Regions from separate parts of the Homo sapiens genome. Here region 2 is linked to region 1. The links come from fine-mapping of genetic effects on gene expression. A gene starts in region 1. The other region holds a variant in brackets. All regions are shown on one strand. Distances are from middle to middle.

What was found. PIP is the estimated chance that this variant, and not a neighbour inherited with it, causes the effect.
Region 2: its variant is fine-mapped to the expression of CSTPP1 in whole blood (INTERVAL, PIP above 0.99).

What each region holds. Positions count from the first base shown.
Region 1 is chr11:46,931,680-46,940,021 of GRCh38, forward strand. CSTPP1 (centriolar satellite-associated tubulin polyglutamylase complex regulator 1) reads left to right here and starts at 5,082. Exons shown (of 9, transcript NM_024113.5): 1 at 5,082-5,172. The coding sequence starts at 5,127. RefSeq lists an enhancer at 4,940-5,149.
Region 2 is chr11:46,976,348-46,984,689 of GRCh38, forward strand. The region is part of intron 1 of CSTPP1 (centriolar satellite-associated tubulin polyglutamylase complex regulator 1); the gene reads left to right. Among named protein-coding and RNA genes, the nearest start is that of CSTPP1, 44 kb to the left of the region's middle. The variant C/G (reference allele first, on the strand shown) is at 4,010.

The DNA of each region.
Region 1 (8,342 bases):
GAAATTTAAAGATGAATGAAGACTGTCTCTGCCCTCATGGAACTCACAATCTAGTAGGAAGAATTTTTTAAAAAGACATAAATGGTTATAAAAGTGCATACTAGCTGGGCGCGGTGGCTCACGCCTGTAATCCCAGCACTTTAGGAGGCTGAGGCGGGTGGATCACCTGAGGTCAGGAGTTCGAGAGCAGCCTGACCAAAATGGAGAAACCCCGTCTCTACTAAAAATACAAAATCAGCCAGGTGCAGTGCGCATGCCTGTAATCCCAGCTACTTGGGAGGCTGAGGCAGGAAAATCTCTTGAACCCGGGAGGTGGAGGTTGCAGTGAGCCGAGATCACGCCACTGCAGTCCAGCCTGGGTGAAAGAGCGAGTCTCTGTCTCAAAAAAACAAAACAAAACAAAACAAAACAAAACAAAACAAAACTGCATAGTCTAGGACAGAAGAAGGCATAACTAATTTTTGTGGGCTACCAAGAATCAGTAAATCATCCCCCCTTTCAAACTATATGAATGTGTAATTTGCAACTCTTATTGCAGCATTTGAAAACATAGAATAACAAGAAAGTACAGTCCATAATTACCTTTGAACTTCAGTTCAATTTACGCCATATCCCCTTAACTAGTTTCTTACAATGCATTAGTTATTCTTAACTGCCCAAGAGTTTGTGAACATTTCTTTTCTTTACAAATTACTCCAAAGCTCTGGTCCATTGGCTTGTGGCAGTACAAAATTACCTTCTATAAATAGCATTTTTAATTGAAACATATGAATCCCAGACAGTGGCATCACACTTAGTTTCTGCTGTGCTCTTGTGGAAGATAAGCCTTTCATGCAGAGCCTAGTAGCTCAGCATGAATTTCATGACCTGCATTTCTTAGTAGCTACTTTGCCTTTAGCATCTTTTCTGCTTGATCAGTTGATAAAAGCTTGTCCTAGTTTCTTGAACCTGTTTTATAGCAATAATTCAGCCTGCATTTATTCTTTCCTTATTGCTTCCTTGAAGTTTAAAACTGTTTAGTGTATTCACCGTTTGCTTTTCTATAGTCTTCAATTATAGGGAGGATTTTCTTCCCTATCAATCTCTTAATAGGTCTTCTGCAGAGCCAGAGATGTCTATTAATTTTCTCATTATAAAATCAGAAATTATAATCTGATAAATTGATGTCTCAGCTGGGTGCAGTGGCTCATGCACTTTGGGAGACTGAGGCAGGAGGATTGCTTGAGCTCAGGAATTCGAAACCAGCCTGGGCTACCTAGCAAGACCTTGTCTCTACAAAATTAAAAATATTATCTGGATGTGGTGGCATGCACCAGTGATCCCAGCTACTCAGGAGGCTGAGGTGGGAGGATTACTTGAGCCCAAGAATTCCAGGCTACAGTGAGTTGTGATTGTGCCATTGCACTCCAGCCTGGGTGACAAAGGGAGACCTTATATATACTAAAAAACAAAACAAACAAACAAACAAAAAACAAAAGGTGCAGTGGCTCACACCTGTAATCCCAGCACTTTGGGAGACTGAGGCGGGTGGATCACTTGAAGTCAGGGGTTCGAGACCAGCCTGGTCAACATGGCGAAACCCTGTCTCTACTGAAAATACAAAAATTAGCCGGGTGTGGTGGCACACACCTGTAGTCCCAACTACTCGGGAGGCTGAGGCAGGAGAATGGCTTGAACCTGGGACACAGAGGTTGCAGTAAGCAGAGATTGCACCATTCCACTCCTTTCTGGATGATGGAGTGAGCCTCTGTCTCAAAAAACAAACAAACAAAAACAAAAACCATCTCAATATATTCTCTCTCTTGTTTTTTTCTTATTGTTCTGAATTTGATGTTTACAGTCGTCATGCTGTAGTACTGCCTTTAACATCCGATGCTCTATTTATCATCAATATCTTATCACTTGCCTCTTTTCAGGATTATGGAGTTGTCTTCTGACTTACCGATTTACCTCGGTGATTTTTTTTTTTGGTAAATTTTTAAGAAATATATTATGATAAGTTAAGAACCTGAAAAGTCAATTTAAATCAAAGGCTGACATTTTTTTTCTTTCTTTCACATTCAAGTCACAAAAAATACACTTAATTTTAACAACTCTTATATATTTCTACTCTTCTTAAGACTGATGTAGTGTATGTTTCATTGAAAAATTTCACCAATAACCAATGTGTTTCAAAAATCTATTATCATGTAATCTGTGACAGAAGAGAAATCTAGCAGTGGCTTCTTTTTGGGAAAAACAAACACTGTCTGGAAGGTCATCACATCTGCTTAAAAAATTTTAAAGATTTTCAGGCCACTCATTTATTATTTGTTTTCAGGTTATAATACATGCCTATTATAGAAAGTTTAAGACTATAGAAAAATATAAAGAAGAAAAATGTAAACAGTCAGTAATTCCACTACCAGTAAGGCCACCTGTTATTTCGGTGAAACTTCAAATTTTTGTGAAGCCTTACTCTAGCAACCTCCTACTTTTCTAAGTCCTCCTCCTCAATAGACTGTTCAGGACATTCAGAGTGGAAGACTGACTTTGAATACAGGGGTCCTTCGGATTTTTATGGAAGGGATGGAACTGTAGGAAAAACCTACAAATTGCTCCAGAGATGACATCTTGTTCTTATTTAGCCTTCTTTGAGTCATTAACAGTCGGGCGCCACTGGTGCTGAAACTTATCATTATTATAACCACAAATGGGTTAATGCCCAAACAAAGCTATATTCTTGGGGCTGGTTCCCAGCTCCACCACACAGACCCCAGCAGCCAGCACCCGCCAAGTCCCAGGATAATGCTCCACAAATAAGACGATGTCAAATGTTCAGCCTGGACTCAACATTATCTTCTTCTATCTGGGAGCTTCCAGTTGCTAGCAGGGCAGAGCAAAAGGAAAAATAAATAAATAAAAGCCAGGTCAACAAACCCTAAAAAAAGAGACTGTGTGGTTTAGTGGTCAGACCACTGGCCTGGATGTTGGGATAGCTGAGATCCAGTTGTAGCTCTACCACTATGTGGCTGCATGATGCTAGACAAGTCACTAGACAAGTCACTGTTGTGACTTGTGCCTCAGTTTCCCTAGTTAGAAAATGGAAAAGTGCCTTAGAAAGGTTTTTTTTTTTTTTTTTTTTTTTTTTTTGAGACGGAGTCTCGCTGTGTCGCCCAGGCTGGAGTGCAGTGGTGCGATCTTGGCTCACTGCAACTTCTGCCTCCCCGGTTCAAGTGATTCTTCTGCCTCAGCCTCCTGAGTAGCTGGGATTACAGGCGTGCGCCACCACGCCTGGCTAATTTTTGTATTTTTAGTAGAGATGGGGTTTCTCCATATTGGCCAGGCTGGTCTCGAACTCCTGAACTCGTGATCCGCCCACCTCAGCAGAAAGTTTTTATGAGGACAAATAAGATTATTTGCAAATAGCTACAAGTTGCTTGGGAATAAAGTAAAATTATCACTTAATAATTACTATGGTATTACCTTATTAATAAAATAGTAAAAAGCCACAGTTATGGAACATATGAACCTCCCATAACCTCAAGCTAGATGGGGGAAGCAGATAAGAAGGCAATTAAAAAAAAATCAGATTTGCTGGACTTCACACCAAATACCAAATTAGTAAATTTGCCTCAAGACACTAAGCCCTGCTCCTACTTTGGCTCTGTCCTTTTAACCTCACCACATCCAAACTTAGAGTGACTCACAGGAGCCTAGAATTGAGACACATATACAATTTTAAGGGAAAGCAAGAATTAGGAGGTTTGAGGCTCCTTACTGGAGGACGCTAAGAATAGGCCACTCGGAACACAAAGAGAAGAACCTCCTCTTTCCTTTTCCTCCCAGTGTAGGTGGTCTACTGGTTTCCCAGTCATTCCTTTGATAGCTTGATTTTGTTTTCTTTGTCTCTTTTTCACAAACCTCACCTTGTTGGAGGGGGAGGGCACTAAAAAAGTGAGGACAGAGTGGCTTTTTCTGCTATGTCTGAACTGTGTCTAGTGCTACAGATCTCTGACCTGTTGTCAGGAGTGGAGAGGGGCGAAAAGAAATATTTAGGAACTTGAAAACCAGTGAATATTCTCTTAAAGAAGAAGTGAGCAATTGGGCATATAGGGAAAAAAATCTAACTGGTGTCCTCGTTTCTGCAGCCCCTCTCCCTCAAGAAGAGCAATGTCTTGGTAGGAAAAAGGAAAGACACCTGGGAAAGGTACCAAATAGTAAGGGCTAGGAATAGAAAGAAGAACCAAAGATAAAAAGGAATTGAGCCTGGGCGCGGTGGCTCACGCCTGTAATCCCAGCACTTTGGGAGGCCTGAGGCAGGCGGATCACCTGAGGTCGGCGGATCACCTGAGGTCAAGAGTTTGCAGACCAGCCTCGCCAACATGGTGAAACCCCATCTCTACTAAAAACACAAAAAATTAGCCAGGCGGAGTGGCGGGCGCCTGTAATCCCAGCTACTTGGGAGGCTGAGGCAGGAGAATCGCTTGAACCCGGGAGGCGCTGGTTGCAATGAACCGAGATCACGCTACTGCACTCCAGCCTGGGCGACTGAGTGAGAATTGAGAAGAAATGGCAATTAGTTCAGAGGACTTAATGAGTACCTTTTGTGTGTCCAGCCGTCATAGGCAGAAAAGACACATCTCTGACCTCTAGAAGCATCCAGGGTATATGCATACGTAAGCACTTTGTAGCAATTTAAGATAGTAAATACCAAAGAGATAAAAATAGCTAATGGGATACTAAGTGTTTATGGGGGCCAAAGGGCGGGGGCTATTACTGAGTTAGGATAAACAGTGTATAAAAGCAGGGATAGTTATGAAATTCAGAAACTGCGTATATGGGCGGCTGACAGTAATTCTTCGACACTGGGAAACATAACGGATTCAAAAGAATTCTTCATCTCAGATTCCTCTAAAACCAAGTCTTCAAGAATGGGAGTCCAAAGAAACCTGGACCATCGTGAAGCGACTGCCCCCGGAACTTGAGTGGCCAGCTCCACTTTGCGACACGGAGACTGTTTGTGTGACACCTCCTCCAGCTCCCGTCCCCCTTCCGCCGCGTGGGTGCCATGGCAACGGAGAGAGACGGCAACCTGGGTTCCGGAAGCCGGAGAGCTGGAGCTTTGAAGCCACCCCGGTCAAAGGATGCTGAGTCCGGAGCGCCTAGCCCTACCGGACTACGAGTATCTGGGTAGGAACCCCCTTTAACTTTGGGGAGGGAAAGACGTGCAGACGAATTAGGCCAGGGTCTGGGAGGAGGCGGGGGCGGGGTCTGAGTGGGATCGGGTCCGGGTGGTATGGGGAGGGGCGGAGAGGCGGGGGTTCCAGGGCCTGAGCCTGTAAGGCCGAGCAGGAAGGAAAAAAGCACCTGGGAAGTAAAGAATGTTTGAAGTGTAGGGGCTGGAACTCAGGCAATGTGGATTGTGTTCAAATGGGTCAGGTTGGCGTTGAGGATTTGGGGCCCTGTTGGGGTATTATTGATATGCTGGTAGTGGAGTAAGAATAACCTTGGAACCTCAAGTGCCAAATCAGTCAGCGAACATTTCGAGCTTTTCTTTTTCATTAGGCACTGTGCTAAGCATTTTTCATGCATCATTCTTCATTTGAATTTCTCAACAGCCCTAGGAGGAATTACCGTGTTTTCTTCCAGTTTTGCAGGTGGAGAAACTGGGGCTGAAGAGGTAACTTGCGTTAAGTTAGGCCACACAGCTAGAAAATGGTAGCGCTAGGATCAGAACCGGATTTGCCCACTCCAACAGAACTTGAGATATTGACTTGGCTCTTGAGCTAAGACTGTATATGTAGTACTTTGTTGAGCATCTTTAGTGTATAAGGCATTTAATGAATGAAAAAAGGCACACACACGCATAGATATGTACACACACACACATATGCACACAATACACATTTTATTTTATTTTATTTTTGAGACGGAGTCTAGCTCTGTCGCCCGGGCTGGAGTGCAGTGGCGCGATCTTGGCTCACTGCAAGCTCCGCCTCCCGGGTAGCTGGGACTACAGGCGCCCGCCACCTCGCCCGGCTACTTTTTTGTATACTTAATAGAGACGGGGTTTCACCGTGTTAACCAGGATGGTCTCGATCTCCTGACCTCGTGATCTGCCCGCCTCAGCCTCCAAAAGTGCTTGGATTACAGGCGTGAGCCACCGCGCCCGGCCACAATACACATTTTAAATAATTCATAGACTTTTATTTTTTTAAAGACGTTTTGTTTTGTTTTGTTTTGTTTTTTGAGACAGAGTTTCTCTCCTGTTGCCCAGGCTGGAGTACACTGCAACCTCTGCCTCCCGGATTCAAGCGATTCTCCTGCCTCAGCCTCCCGAGTAGTTGAGATTACAGGCATGCGCCACCACGCCAGGTTAATTTTATATTTTTAGTAGAGACGGGGTTTCACCATGTTGGTCAGGCTGGTCTCAAACTCCTGACCTCAGGTGATCCGCCCACCTCGGCCTCCCAAAGTGTTGGGATTACAGGCGTGAGCCACTGCACATGGCGAGAAGTTTTAAGTTTACAGAAAATTGAGCAGATAGTACGGCGAGTTCCCATATACCTTGGGTCTCCCTCACTCACAGTTTCCGCTATTATTTACATCTTGCATTAGTGTGGTACATTTGTTACAATGGATAAACATATATATTTATAATATATAATAATATATTATATATTATTATTATTATATAGATATATTATTATAGATACATATTATTAACTAAAGTCCATAGTTTACATTAGGGTTCTTTGTGTTGTTCAGTTCTGTGGGTTTTGATAAATGCATGTCATGTATTCACCATTCCATTATCATACAGAATAGTTTCACTGTCCTGAAAAATCCCCTGTGCTCCACCTATTGATCCTTCTCCCTCCCCCTGCAGCCCTTGCCAACCACTGATCTTATGGTCTCTAAAGTTTTGCCTTTTCCAGAATATCATGTAGTTGGAGTCATACAGTGTGTAAATTTTTCAGATGGGCTTCTTTAACTTAGCAGTAAGCATTTAAGTTTCCTCCATGTCTTTCTGTGGCATGATAACTCATTTCTTTTTATTTCTGAATAATATTCCATTGTATGGATGTACCATGCACATCTTTTTTTTTTTTCTTCTTCTTTTTTTTTTTTTTTGAGACAATGTCTGGCACTGTCACTCAGGCTGGAGTGCAGTGGCACTATCACGGCTCACTGCAGCCTCAACCTCCGGGCTCAAGTGATCCTGCTACCTCAGCCTTCCAAGTAGCTGGGACTACAGGCACATGCCACCATCCCTGGTTAATTTTTTAATTTTTTGTAGAGAAAGAGTCTCACTATGTTGTCCAGGTTGGTCTTGAACTCCAGGGCTCAAGCAAGCCTCTTACTGTGGCCTTCCAAAGTACTGAGATTACAGGTGTGAGTCACTGCACCTGGCTTACATCTTTTTTTTTTTTTTTTTTTTTTTTTGAGATGGAGTTTCACTCTTGTTGCCTAGGCTGGAGTGCAATGATGCGATCTGGGCTCACCCCAACCTCCGCCTCCTGGGTTCAAGTGATTCTCCTGCCTCAGCCTCCCTAGTACCTGGGATTACAGGCATGCGCCACCACGCCTGGCTAATTTTGTATTTTTAGTAGAGATGGGTTTCTCCATGTTGGTCAGGCTGGTCTCAAACTCCTGACCTCAGGTGATCCACCCACCTCGGCCTCCCAAACTGCTTGGATTACAGGCGTGAGCCACCGCGCCCAGCCAACATCTTTTTAAATGAAAAACAATTCTGGTTTACATTTTGTTTAACTTATTTTAAAAATTAATTTTAAAATATTTTTTAAGGTTGGTAATATGGAAACTTGATTCAAAGTATTTTTTAGGCCTGGCATGGTGGCTCATGCCTGTAATCCCAATACTTTGGGAGGCTGACGTAGGAGGATTGCTTGAGGTCAGGAGTTCAAGACCAGACTGGATGATAGAGTGAGACCCTGCCTCTAAAATGCATAGATAGATAGATAGATAGATAGATAGATAGATAGATAGATAGGTAGATGTTTTTAGTGAAAAGCCTACCCCTTTGCCTCCATCTGCCCAGTTTCCATCCATCCTCAGCCTCCCAAAAGTAACCACTATTATTGTTTTCCTGTGTATCTTTCCAGAGTTTATTATATACATAAAGGAGTATACAGTGCATACTTTTTCATTTAATACATCTTGAAGTAATTTCCGTTTCTTTTGTTTTTTCTTTTCTTTCTTTCTTGAGACAGAGTCTCACTCTGTCACCCAGGCTGGAGTGCAGTGGCACCATCTCGGCTCACTGCAACCTCCACTTCCTGGGTTCAAGCCATTCTCCTGCCCCAGCCTCTCAAGTAGCTGGAACTGCAGGCACGAGC
Region 2 (8,342 bases), 45 kb after region 1:
GTGAATATAGTCATTGTGATATTTTCAGAGTAAGCTAGGTTTCAGTCACACACACACACACACACACACACACACAGTACACACACACACACAATGAGAGAAATGTATAGAATCGTGGGGAATTTGCTGTACAGTTTTGGGTTTTGGCTTGCTATTATTAGCTGCACCTTGGGCATGTTACAGAACCTCCCTAAGCTTCAATTTCCTCTGCTATAAAATAAGGATAAAAGTACCTTAAATGGTGGTTGTGAAAATTAGAGACAATGTAAGTTGAGTACATAGTACAGTGCTTGGCACAGAATAGGTATTTGGTAACCCTTTCCCCACATGAGTTTTTTAAGTTTCTGTATTTACTTTAAGGCCCTTATTGTATGCAGTCATCCATGAGTATATGCAGGGGGTTAGTTCCAGGGCTCTCTGAGTATACCAAAATCTGTGCATACTCAAGTCCTGCAGTTGGCCCTGTGGAACCCGAATCTACGAGAAGTTGACCCTCCCTATACGTGTGTTTTGCTTCCTGAGAATACTGAAGTTTCGACCTACATTTGGTTGGAAAAAACCCTCACTTTTAAGTGGACCCAAGCTATTGAAATCCGTATTGTTCAAGGGTCAATCGTATTTCACTTTGAAGGACTGGTCCTCAGCAAGTTCATCTTCTGAACTACTCAGTGATGCTCACACTCAAGAAGACCATATCTTATTAAGTGGTTAGTTTAGAAGCTCTTTCCCATGCAGATTTGCAAGCGGAGTGTGTAAAAATCACACATTGCACTTGTTGCCTGGCAGCACGTGTCCCTGAGTGGTAGTACATGGCTTGCATTGTAATGTTATCAGTGCTGGGGCCAGCTGGCTAGACATGTACTGCTACATGGGCTAGGGACTCCATTCCTCAACAAAACAGCAGCCAGCACTAGGGTTAACAGAAAATGACAAACCAGGAATGGATGAGGGAGGCGCCAGCACAGCAGCGGGATGTCTTTTGATTTGCTTCTGTTATTTGCATGTCTCTCTTGTGATGTCTGTGAAATGTTTAGAATGACAAAGTTTTTAAAAGACCTGCTGACTCCGCCTGAAAAATGTGAAAAACCTCCCATTTAGAGACCTATTATGTCCAGCTAGCCTGCATTTTCTATATCTTTTTCTTTATTTTTTATTAATGCAAACATTTGCATGAAGACAGAACCTTTGTTTCTTAAAGAGTTCATCTGCTCCTGCTGCTTACTGGCCCTGCCATGCAAGAGCACAACAGAACCTTTGTTAGGCTTTCAGCAAAGCTGTTTATGAACGGTGGCTTACTGAGGACTGCTTCCTGTGCTGTGTGCTTCCATTTTGTCTAAAAAGAAAAAAAGAAAATAGTTATTAGGAGTAAAAAGAATTTGGACTTTCTTTTATTCAAGTCCTGGATGTTGAAATGACAAGTAGCCCCCAAATTTGTGAGGAACTGGTAATTGCATCGAATGCATTTTTTCGCTTTACCTTGAACATAATGAGGCTCTTAGTAACAATAGAAGGAACAAGTGCCTTCTCATTGGAATAGAGAGAAGGAACAGTAGTAAAAAGGCAACAGAAAGAGTAGTTGAGAACAGGACAAAAGTGGCTTCCAGTAAGAACACTAACATTGTAATAGAATGTGTTTTGATATTTAGCGTTTCCCACCTGGGAGGCACAGTCCTAAAGTGGTTGAGTTGAATAAAGAACAGCATCACAGTTTATAAATAGTGGATACAGTTTGTATGTTCATTAAGTAAATATTTGAATGTCTACCATGTGAAAGACACTGAATGGTCCTGAGTGTTAAAGGAAATAAAAGATAAATGAGTCATGGTGCCTATCTTTAAGGATCAGGACATCCAACAAAGAAGATAACATACGCATAACAGAAATAACTGTGTATCAAGGTAGAAAGTGCCACTGGAAATATTTAAAATAGATGTTTAGGGAGTTTGGGAAAAGGGAAGATCACTTCTGGCTGGGACAGAATCAGGGAAAGGTTCACAAAGAAGGTGGCATTTGAGTTGGGCCTGGCAGAAAAGGTAGGACTGAACATTGCAACATTCCTAAAAGTGATGAGTCAAAAATTATGTTGTTCTAGTAAAACAGATCCAAAGTATGTTTTTATAGGGTACTTTGGTGGTGTTTTTATACCATTAATTTAGATGATATGTTAAGTGTTATGAGTTTTCTGTGTAGACTAAACTGGGGCCTCTCTGTCTAGTCTATGTTGTTCCAACCATTTGCCCCATACGGTTTTTGTGCACTTTGGCCTAGGCCTTTTTGTATCTATAAATATCTACAATAGCATCCTTTACTTTCATAACAAAAATAGAAACTCAAAGGGATTATTGAGCACTATTACAGCTATATCCCATAAACAGTATGTGGAGATAGTTCTTAGTGGGGATTTCACATGTGAGACTCTTATTTGAAAAAGAATCCCCACCTTCGTGCAGAGCCACATCAACCACAAGAGAGAGGACAGGGAATTCTAAGCCCGTGAGTTTTCAGTTACTTTAAATTAGAACTTTTCTGTATCTTTTTGTCATTAGAAAAAATGAGATCCTGTTACTGTTAGTTCAGTTGTGAATGCCAACTAATTTTTATGTAATATTTTTAATGTAAAATGCCAAGCAAATGATTAAGCTGTTGTATTAGTATCTTATTGCATTAATATCACTATTCTGTATATTCATAGTTAAATTGCATATTACCAATTAATATTAATCTGTAAATTTAATGATAATTGATAAATACATGGTTTGCCCCCAAAGGCTATACTTTTTCTTTTTTTTAAAGAGACAGGAGTCCTACTATGTTGGTCTTGAACTCCTGGGCTCAAGGGATCATCCTGCCTCAGCCTCCTGAGTAACTGGGACCATAGGCATGCATCACCATGCCCGGCTGCAAGACTACAACTCGTGCTATAGCACAATTAATTTTCACCTTGTAATTTTATTACTTCCCTGTTTGAAAACATGAGTGGCATATGATTTACTACATGTTTAGCAATTTACAGGATTTTTTTTTTACCCATGATACTTTCTGGAAAATAGTTATGTGAATGTTTATGGCGTTGACTTGATAACTATACTGCTTTATTAGTAACTATTTTTGCAAAGTTATTGCCATGACAAATATTACTTGGGTTCTTCATATGTCCCTTAGATTGTAACTGTGGGAAACTTAAGTGCTACTTTAGATTTCTCTGGTGTTCAGGAAGTACATTTTGTTATGGTCAGCTAGCTGAGTGCTTTAAGTTTGAACTATGAAAATCTCCTTAAAAAAAAAAAGGACGCGGTGGCTTATGCCTGTAATCGCAGCACTTTGGGAGGCCAAGGCAGGCGGATCACCTGAGGTCAAGAGTTTGAGACCAGCCTGGCCAACATGGTGAAACCCTGTCTCTACTAAAAGTACAAAAATTAGCTGAGCATGGTGGCGGGCGCCTGTAATCCCACCTACTCAGGAGGCTGAGGCAGGAGAATCGCTTGAACCCTGGAGGTGGAGGTTGCAGTGAGCCGCGATCACGCCACTACACTCCAGCCTGGGTGACAACAGCGAGACTCTGACTTAAAATAAAAAAGATTCTGTAGTTTCTGGCACTTGAAATTGCAGGACTCCAACCTACAAATGCTGTATTATTATGAGATTTAGGCTGGAAATACTGAGGCAGTAGGATTTAAGCACTTACCCTTAATTGACATCCCAAAACTATATATAAAACAAACAAACAAACAAAAAAACAAAAAAACCCACCAGTTTTAGGAAAGAGAAGGGAAGAGGGGAGGATTAATGGTTGACCAGAGACTGTTTTGAGTGTCAAGGCACTCAGCTTTTCACAGCTATTAACCAGTACAATACCCCTTTTGGTTGAGGGAAATAGACTTTAGTTTTTCATCCTCTACTTAACATAAAGATCTTTAGACACCTCTTGTTTTCTGGTTGTCACAGGTGATGTTAGCATATGTGTAATGCTTTGTTTGCCTCTGGCGTGTCTTTTAGTATTTGAGTTTGA[C/G]TAGCCGTATAGCAGGACTTTAGTGGTTTGGATGCATAGATGCAATGTATTGCTTTTGTCTGTTTTATAATTAACAATTATAAAATAAAAGGTCATTCCTTAATTTGCAAATTTGTTCTCAGAAAGTTCTGTTTGATACATGTCATACTGCATGGCTCTTTAAAGGTGGCAGTATCATGCAGTACAGACTGGAATATAGGATAATAGGCTTATACACTTGGAGTAGAGAAGGCCTTTTTGAATAGGACACAAAGCACACCAAAAAAAAGCCACAGATACATTATTTTGACTGTATCAACACTTAAAACTTCTGTAAAATGAAAGATACCACAGACAAGTTAAAAGAAGACCATGAAGTAGATGTATGTATTTGTGACATGTATAGAATTATCTACAAGTCAAGAAGAAGAAAAAAAGACAACCAGAGAAGAAAATTGGCAAAGGATAAGAAATACAAATAAACATGAAAATGTGCTTAACTTTATTTGTAATCAAGAAAAGTAAAATTAAAACAACAGAGAAAAGCTATTTTCTAACTATTAAATCGGCAAAATTAAAAAGCATTAGGCCAAGGATAGTGAAAATAGATACTCATACAGCTGGTGGTGTGTAAATTGGAATAACTAATTTGTAAAAGCAATTGTCTATCTCTGGTAAACATGAAGATATCCTGTGCATCCTATGAAATGCCAATTCCATCTTGAGGAATCTACCTTAGAAAAACTCTTGCACATATATACAAGGAAACACGTACAAGAATGTTCAACACAGCCCAGTTTATTATAGTGAAAACATGGAAACAACCTAAATGTTTATCAGTAGGGAAATATTTACCATTGGGAACTATCAAAAAGGTAAGTAGGTTCCATATTGTTTTATAAAAGATCTCCAGACATTGTTGATTAAAAAAAAAAAAGATGCAGAAAGGATATATCAGACACTTAAAAACAACTTAAAACATGAAAACAGAACAAGCTCACAAACTATATTTCTGTATTTTTGAAAATATGTACCCCAAACTGATAATAGTTGTTATCTATGGGAACTGGAATTAGTCTTTAGCTTTATCTGTATTGTTTGAACCTTTAAAAATTATTGTGTGTTTAACTAGAAATAAACATTTTTAAAAATTTAAAGATCATACCAGTACTTTGATTTACCAATTTAAGCTTCTTAATACTATAAAGTATTAACAGGGAAGAGCCAGCAATTTCTAGATAATACAACGTAAGATGGGGCACTTTGTAGGTTTTTGGATTTTTCTTGTTTTGCTTTCATTTTTGGTTTTGAGAGGTAGTGGGGTGAATGGAAGAATACGGGCTTTGGAGTCAAATCTAAGTTTGAATCCAAGCTCTGCCATTTATTTAGACTTTGGGCAGGTTTCTTAACCTCTCTAGTTTTTAAAAAAATTGCTATTACCTACTTCGTTGGGTTGTATAAGAATTACATGTGCTAGATTTCCTCATTTCCCCATTCCCTTTGGTTAAGGGAAATTGGTCTAGTGTGGTCTAAGATCAAAGATGGTCTCGTATGGATGACAAAATGTTTCACAAGAACACACTATATCCTTGGACCAGGATATACCAGTAAAGATGGAGGATGTAAATAATAAATTTTAGAGGTCTATTAACTGTTTAAACCATTAAGCTATCTATTTGTACCTCACAAGATCAAATACTAGATTATGTTAGTGATTTATAAATGATATTGAACTTGAAACTTCTAAGCAGTTTACATGACAGGTTGTTGATTAACAGGTTTACTTTTTTTTTTAAATCTCAGAGAACATTTTAATTTAGTTCAGCAAACATTTATTTGTGCCATCCAGCATCTCAATCTCAAGAGGCCTCATAGACCAAAATATGTCTCAAAAGGAAGAAAGGAAAACTCTATGTATTTATCAATTTATTTATCAAACTCTGGCAAGGGGGGAAAAAGTCAGGTTTAAAGTTGAGTATATGTATATACTCTGCTTTTCACTTGTACTGCTATTGCCTATGTGTGCATCTGTTAATATCATATATAGCAATTCATATGAAGATTTTTTCCAGTGAGACTTAGTTATTCTATTATTGGGACTCTGTATTAAATAATAATTTTTAAAAAAGAGTGCTCTAACTAATGTTAAGGTGGAAATTCTAGACCCCTCAAACAAAAATTTCCAAATAGGACCCCTTATCATTTAATTGTGAAATAAACAACTAATGCTTTTATGGTATTTATGCTTGGGAAGAGAATAAAATAAATAGTTTTGGATTTTCCCCATATAAATTAGGGCCTGCTGAGTAATTAGCAGTTAATAAGTGAATGCTTCCTACAAGTTTAAAGGTCATACCTGAAATGGGTATATGATGATGTATATTTTTATAGTTATAGATTTTATATAGCCCAAGAATCCTTGAAGATAGTCTAAACATCTTGGTTTGATGAGCAGAACTTTCAATAAGGGGGTAAGGGGCTAATATTGTTTGAGCACTTACTATGTGCCAAGCACTATTCTAAGATGATTACATAGATTATTTTATTTAATCTTCACCACAGTCTTCTGTGGTAGGTACTAGTATTGCCCAATTTTATAGAAAAGGGCAGAGAGATAAGGTAACTTATATGAAGTTACACAGTCAGTAAATGACAGAGCTAGAAATCATATCCAGGTTCAGTTGGCTCAAGAACCCATATTCTTAACCATTGCAGTAAAAATTGTTATGCTGTTTTAATCTGTAGAGTCAGCATGTAGCAATAATAATATAATCATTAACATGTTACATTTTGCATATATTGAATGCTTTCTAAAGAAGTAGTTTATTATCAGACATATTCTTAGAATCATACCCATTTTATAGCAGGATTGACAGTGTTATAAAGAGATTACGTGATCAACATGGGGTGAGTCAACAGAACCAAGAAGTTTCTGATCCACAATTGCCTTCACTTGCTAGGTTCAAGTAAGGATCATATAGTGTTTACTTACATTTGCCTTAGATTTTTCAGTATAGCATGATGAAATTCTAAATGCTTATCTCAGACAGTGATGCTATCTGAGCAAGACATGGACAATTGGGCATTAGTGTGAATTTTAGGACACTAGAGCGTAGGTACAGGTTAGAAAACTTAATCCTCATCTTGTGGAAGTCATGGCAAAGCCAAAGAGGAAAAGCCTGTCTTAAATGCTTTTCCTTTTCCAAGGGGCAGCTAAGGTGCCCAGATATCTTTGCCCTCCAGGGATGCAGGTGTGCTGTTTTTTATTCTTTAATCATTCACATAAATTAAAGCCTATTCCTTTGCATTAAAAAAAATGTAAAATGACACTCTCCGTGTTTTATTGCCAGGCAAGAGCTTTGAACTTCTGTCTCATTGAAGTTTGATAAACTAAGGATTTTCCCGTGTTGGGTGGTACCCTTAACCACAGAGGGAGCATTAGACTGATAAGAGCTGCAGGTGAAGGAAACCACCAGGGCACGGCAATTAGGGAGAGCTTCGCACTTGGCTGTTGGCTGGTGTAAAACTCTCTGCAGGGAGGAACTTTTCTTCTTAGCTTCTTCCCTTCACCCACACGTAAAAAGAACACCAGGGCTTTCTATTTCTACTTTGCGAACTAGGAATGGATGGGATGGTTCTTTTCAAGAAACTTTCAAATTTAGGGACAAGTTCTAACTTCACACAAATGCTGATTGGTATGAAGGTGGGGGGACAGGACAGACAGACATACACACACATAAATTCACGTGGACCCAAATGGACCATATCTCTCAGGTGATTTTACTATCAACATACATTCCTGCCTTTGTGCACTGTGTAAAATAAAGATAATTTTTACTTCCATAACTGATTATAAAGTGTTAATGGTGAGGCAACGTGTTAAGAGAATGGGTTCTTGTATCAGGTAAACCTTGGTTCAAATCTTGGCTTCTCTTCCCACTAGCTGTGTAAATTAATTTTGTAAGTCTCAGTTCTCCCACTTGTAAAAATAGAAGTCTAAGAATAACTATTATAGGATTGTATTTGGAAGAAATAGAATAAAGCATGTGAAACAATTAGTACAGTACTATATCTGTCACATTGTTGTTTAATAAATTGTGCAAGTACTCAAAAATGGTAGCTGTTATTATTTGTAATATGAAACTAAATATCTGATTGGTAGATTAATGTTAAACATGCATGGTCCAATATATTTCTTTCTTTCCTTTTTTATATTTTTGGTATAAAGTCTATTTTCTTGAAAATTCCTGCTTTTTTTTTCTAGAAGGACAAAAGTACTTTGATTTTTACTGCTCTGAAAATATTTATCCCGTAAAAAGCTTTCACATTAACTTTGAGTCCCTGGAGCTAGGGA